2 separate regions of the Homo sapiens genome follow, and region 1 is linked to region 2. Evidence: fine-mapped expression QTL. A gene starts in region 2. The other region holds a variant in brackets. All regions are shown on one strand. Distances are between the middles of the regions. Region 1 overlaps SYNGR1 (synaptogyrin 1). Region 2 holds the start of SYNGR1 (synaptogyrin 1).

What was found. PIP is the estimated chance that this variant, and not a neighbour inherited with it, causes the effect.
Region 1: its variant is the best candidate, but not a certain one, in a credible set for the expression of SYNGR1 in monocytes (Fairfax 2014, PIP 0.57).

The regions. Positions count from the first base shown.
Region 1 is chr22:39,371,731-39,374,740 of GRCh38, forward strand. SYNGR1 (synaptogyrin 1) reads left to right here. Exons shown (of 4, transcript NM_004711.5): 2 at 2,586-2,823. Among named protein-coding and RNA genes, the nearest start is that of SYNGR1, 23 kb to the left of the region's middle. RefSeq lists an enhancer at 2,184-2,699. The variant G/T (reference allele first, on the strand shown) is at 1,360.
Region 2 is chr22:39,348,544-39,351,292 of GRCh38, forward strand. SYNGR1 (synaptogyrin 1) reads left to right here and starts at 1,448. Exons shown (of 4, transcript NM_004711.5): 1 at 1,448-1,566. The coding sequence starts at 1,468. RefSeq lists a silencer at 1,495-1,654.

The DNA of each region.
Region 1 (3,010 bases), 23 kb after region 2:
TTTCTCAGCCTCCTAAAGTGCTGGGATTACACACGTGAGACACCATGCCCAGCCAAAAAGCGTGAACTTTAGAGTCAGGTACCCTGGGTTTGAAGCCAGGTTCTGTCACTGACCAGTTGTGTGACTTTGGGTGTGTTAACAATAGCTGAGCCTTAACTGTCTTATCTGCAAAATGCTGATGGTGCAGGATGTATTGGCAAGCTATTGCTGCACAACAAATTGCCCTACAACATAAGGCTTATAACAAGAAATATTTGTTATCTGACAGTTTCTGTGGGTGAGGAATCTGCTAAGCTTGGTGCCACTGCCTCAGGGTCTCTCACAAGGCTATAATCACAGCATCAGGTAGGGCTGTGGTTTCATCTGAAGGCTCAACTGAGGGTAGATCCATTCTTTTTTTTTTTTTTTTTTTTTTTTTGAGACGGAGTCTCACTCTGTTGCCTAAGCTGGAGTGCAGTGGGGTTGATCTTGGCACACTGCAACCTCCACCTCCTGGGTTCAAGCGATTCTCCTGCTTCAGCCTCCAAAGTAGCTGGGACCACAGGCACGTGCCACCACACCCAGCTAATGTTTTGTATTTTTAGTAGAGACAGGATTTCACCATGTTAACCAGGATGGTCTTGATCTCCTGACCTCGTGATTTGCTCACCTCAGCCTCCCAAAGTGCTGGGATTATAGGCATGAGCCACCATGCACCACGCCCAGCTCTTTTTTTTTTTTTTTTTTTTTTTTTTTTTTGAGACGGAGTTTCTCTCTGTCACCCAGGCTGGAATGCAATAGCACAATCTCGGCTCACTGCAACCTCCGCCCAGGCCCAGCAAACAGTTCTCCTGGGCTCAAGCAATTCTCCTGCCTCAGCCTCCCAAGTTGCTGGATGACAGGCATGTGCTACCACACCTGGCTACTTTTTGTATTTTTAGTAGAGACAGGGTTTCTCCATGTTGGCTAGGCTGGTCCCGAACTCCTGACCTCAGGTGATCCACCCACCTCGGCCTCCCAAAGTGCTGGGATTACAGGCGTGAGCCACTGTGCCTGGCCTGGGTGGATCCATTCTTAAGCTCACTGACATGGTATTGGCAGGATTCAATTACTTGTGGGTGTTGGACTGAGGGGCTCAGTTCCCTGTGGGCAGTTGGCTAAAGACCCTCAGTTCCTTGCCATGCAGTCTTTCCAAAGGGTAGTCCAAAACACAACAGCTTTCATCAGAGCAACCAGGGAGTGGGGGAGAAGAGGACGAGCAAGATGGAGGCAGAAATCCTTTGTCACTTACTCCCAGAAGTGATATCCCATCACTTCTTGCCATATCCTGTAGTGGGGTCAGTGAGATAGCATGTGTAATATACCCTTGGGATCATGCAG[G/T]GTGCCCTGTATCTGGCAGGATTGTGTCTATTGTTATTTTCTATTTAATACACACACACACACACACACACACACACATAGATAGATTTTTTTTTTTTTGAGAGTGTCTTGCTCTGTTGCCCAGGCTAGAGTGCAGTGGCTTAATCTTGGCTCACTGCAACCTCCACCTCCCAGGTTCAAGTGATTCTCCTGCCTCAGCCTCCCGAGTAGCTGGGATTACAGGCATCCGCCACCATGCCCAGCTAATTTTTGTATTTTAGTAAAGACGGGGTTTCACCATGTTGGCCAGGCTGGTCTCAAACTCCTGACCTCGTGATCCACCCGCCTCTGCCTCCCAAAGTGCTGGGATTACAGGCGTGAGCGACCACGCCTGGCCCGAGAGTTTTTTGTTTTGCTTTGTTTTGTTTTTTTGAGACAGAGCCTCTCTCTGTCACCCAGGCTGGAGTGCAGTGGCATGATCACGGTTCACTACAACCTCCACCTCCTGGGCTCAAGAGATCCTCCCCCTCATCTTCCCTGGTACCTGAGACTACAGGCACGCACCACCATACCTGGGTAATTTTTTTATTTTTTAGTAGGGGCGGGGTTTTGCCATGTTGCCCAGGCTGGTCTCCAACTGCTGAGCTCAAGTGATCCTCCTACCTTGGCCTCCCAAAGTGCTGGGATTACAGGCATGAGCCACCACCCCCAGCCCACTGTTATTTTTTCATTCATCACTCCATCTACTTGCCAGGCCTGGGTAGGGGCCTGAGACCCCAGACCAGCCCACAGCTCTGCAGAGGGAAGGAGAACACAAGATGGGGCCCGGCACATGCCAGCATCTGGAGGAGTCAGCCTGGGGGTGGGGGCTGGGCAGGTCCACAGCCCAGGAGGGCCTGTGGCTCCTTGTTCTTTGAGAGTCGGTCCAGTCCCAGGATATCTTGGTGTCAGGGCCCAGGAAGACCTTTAGGACCTGGCTGAGGGGTGTTGGAAGGGGCCACATCTATGGTCAGAGAGTCCTCAGTGCCTGTGGCTGAGGAAGGAAGTGATTGACCCCCACCTGGTGCTATGTGACCCACATAAGTTACCCTCCCTCTCTGGGGATCCCCCTCTGAAATGCCTGCTTAACCCGGGTCTTGTAGCTCACGGAGGGCCAGGCAGCAGGCGAGGGTGGCAGCCTCCCCGTCCCCTGGGTGGTGTGAGGCAGGGGTCTGCCCAGGTCTAAGGTGTGGCCCCACCCCCGACAGCTGTTCTCCATAGTGGTGTTCGGCTCCATCGTGAACGAGGGCTACCTCAACAGCGCCTCCGAGGGGGAGGAGTTCTGCATCTACAACCGCAACCCCAACGCCTGCAGCTATGGCGTGGCCGTGGGCGTGCTCGCCTTCCTCACCTGCCTGCTGTACCTGGCCCTGGACGTGTACTTCCCGCAGATCAGCAGCGTCAAGGACCGCAAGAAAGCCGTCCTGTCCGACATCGGTGTCTCGGGTGAGCCCCACCCAGCAGGTACCCCCTGCACAGAGTCTACAGAGGGCTGTCCCGGCCATAGGAGGCGGCTGCCACCCTTCTTCCCATGTTTCAGATGAGGAAATGAGGTGCAGGCGGGTGAAGGGATGGACTCAGGGTCACATGGCTGGCAGCAGGAAGGATGGGACCAGGACAGGGCCTGGGACCC
Region 2 (2,749 bases):
CTCGCCACCACGCCCGGCTAATTTTTGTATTTTTAGTAGAGACCGGGTTCACCATGTTGGCCAGGATGGTCTCAATCACTTGACCTTGTGATCCATCCACCTTGGCCTCCCAAGGTGCTGGGATTACAGGCGTGAACCACTGCGCCCGGCCTTCTCTTGTGCTTTCTTCTAAAAGTTTTATATAGTCATAGTAGACACCTTATAAGTGTGCTGGATTAAATGTGAAAATGTATGTAAAGCCCTTAGCACAAGGCCTGGTAGAGACTAAACAATCAGCTGAGCCTAAGATGGACATTGACTATGTAATTTTTATAAGGAGCACCCTCAGGCCCAGCACACATTTCCTCCACACAGATGTTGTGTCCTGTCATCACAGAATGGCAGGATACCAGAGAAGCAAAAGCCTCCACCCATATCCTCATCCAACCTGCTCCTGGAACCAGTGAAGGTGACTGCAGACATAGAGAGGCCATAGAGCTACAGGGCAGCAGGAGAGCCAGCCCTGGAAGGTGGCCCTTCCCCTGCAGGGAGCACTCCTCCATCTAGCCTCCGTTTCCATGAAACCTGGAGGTCTAGCCCAAGCTGTGATGGGGTGATGGGGACTAGGCTCTGTTTACTGAGCACCTACTGTATGCTAGGCCCTTGGGTAAGGCATTGAATAAGTTAGACAACACCTGGGCCTCGGGAGCTCACAGACTAGCAGCAGAAGAGGCCATGAACAAATGATTGCGTAATTAATTGCTAGATTCAGGAAAGGGGCAACGTTCTGGGGTAGGAGGGGATGGGGAAGAGGAAGTCTCAGCCGCCGCCTCTGTGCCAGGCCCCTCCAGGCTGGGGGTGGGAGGGTGCGCGGGCACAGGGACACACATGACGTCATCGTAAGAGGCAGGGGAAGGGTGGTCCTGGGAGGTGGGGGCTGCTCTGGAGGGCTGTAAGAGAGGGTCATTCACTCGTGGTTCATTCATTCGAGAAATATTCATGCGGCGCCTACTGCGTACCAAGCACCCTCTAAGAAGGACGAACACAGCTCCTGCCCTCTCATTATATTTGGGGCCGACAAAGTGGCAGGAAACAGCCAAACAAATCAAGCGTGAAGATGGTTTCAGCAGAGCCGACGGCTCAGAGGGGCTGCGACCGGGGCAGGGGACCGGGGATGCGGGGCAGGGACACGGCCCACACTTGCTGTGCACGCACCGCCCTCCCCCAAACACTTTGCAAAGAGGTCACCGCACTGGCTGCGAGCGCGCCCTGAGCCCCGGGCCGCAGCACGCGCGCCCCCGCGCCCGAGGTCGCGCGCTGCCCAGCCCCCCGCCCGCGCCCCGCGAGCTGCGCCCGCCGCGCACGACGCCCCCTCGCGGGAGCCCTGGGCCGCCGGCCGCGCGCGCAGGGGAGGGGGCGGGGGCGCCGCGCACGCGCACGGGCCGGCGGCGCGCGCCGAGCGGGGGGCACCGCGCGGGTGCAGCCACGATGGAAGGGGGTGCGTACGGAGCGGGCAAAGCCGGGGGCGCCTTCGACCCCTACACCCTGGTCCGGCAGCCGCACACCATCCTGCGCGTCGTGTCTTGGGTAAGGACGGACTGGCCGACGGCTCTGCCAGGCCGGGGTGGTGGGGGTGTGAGCAAAGGCGGCGCGCCCGGACCGACCCCGACCCCGACCCCAACGGGCCCCCGGCGGCGGCGCGGCGGCGGGCGAGGAGCTGTCCTGCCTGCGGGGCCCGCTGCCGCCGCTCCTCCTTCCCGGGCCCGGGGCGGGCGGGATCCCTGGTGCTCGCGGGAGACGCCGCTCCGGCTCCCGGAGCCCTGGTTTCCTGGGGCCCCCGGTTCGTGCGCCCCCCTTCCCGCCCCGATTGCTGTGACCTCCAGGCCGCGGCTATGCCGCGAAAGGCTCGGATTGTGCGCGGCCGCCAGGGCGGACTGGGGACCGTGGGGACGGAGCCAGGGTTTAAGGTGGCCTTTTTTGGGGGGTGGATCAGGGCGTGGACCATCTCGGTGGGGTGCATGCCGCGCCTGCGATGGACGTTGGAGGAGGAGAGGGCCGGGAACCGGGTTCGTATTGCCTAGCCCGGCCCGTGTGGAGCGATGAGTCGGGAACTGAGTACCTCTCTTCCACCCGGGAACTGCCTCTCCTTCTCTGCGTGACCTTGGGCTGGGAGCCACCCAGGAAATGTTCTCGAGAAATGAGGACTTCAATTCCGAGGTGGGGAGTGTCATCTCCTCTCTCATGCCTCAGTTTCCCAATTTATAGACAAGGTGGGCGGAGCCTTCTTGAGGCCCCCTTGGGCTCTGACATTTCATGAACCGGTAACACCCCTCCCACTCAGCATGCACCTGGATGCCCAAGGCGGGTGTCTGGGAGAAAGGTCTGCTCCCACAGTGAAGAGGCCAGGGTGGCCTCCAGCCTAGCTGGGGGGCAGGGTCCTCAGTGCAGAGGGCTGAGTGGGCTCTTGTTCAGACGGGTGGTCAGGGAGAGGATGGGTCAGAGACAGTGAGCACAGAGGGAGGGGTTCAGGTGCCTTGAGTGGCACCTCATGGAAAGAAGCCCTGCTGGGGTCTGGAGAGGGGGTTTCTGGGGCTCCCTGGGTTTGGCTGGCTGTATCCCAGAAACTCCCACTCGAGGTTCTGGCCTCTGCAGGCCTGGGGCCCGTTCCTTGTGGGCTTAGACTAGGAATGGGCTAGACTGTCAGGGACCCCAGGGGCTACCCCAAGGCCAGCTGTGACCTCAGGGTGCCCAAGCTTCCTCCTTTCCTTGG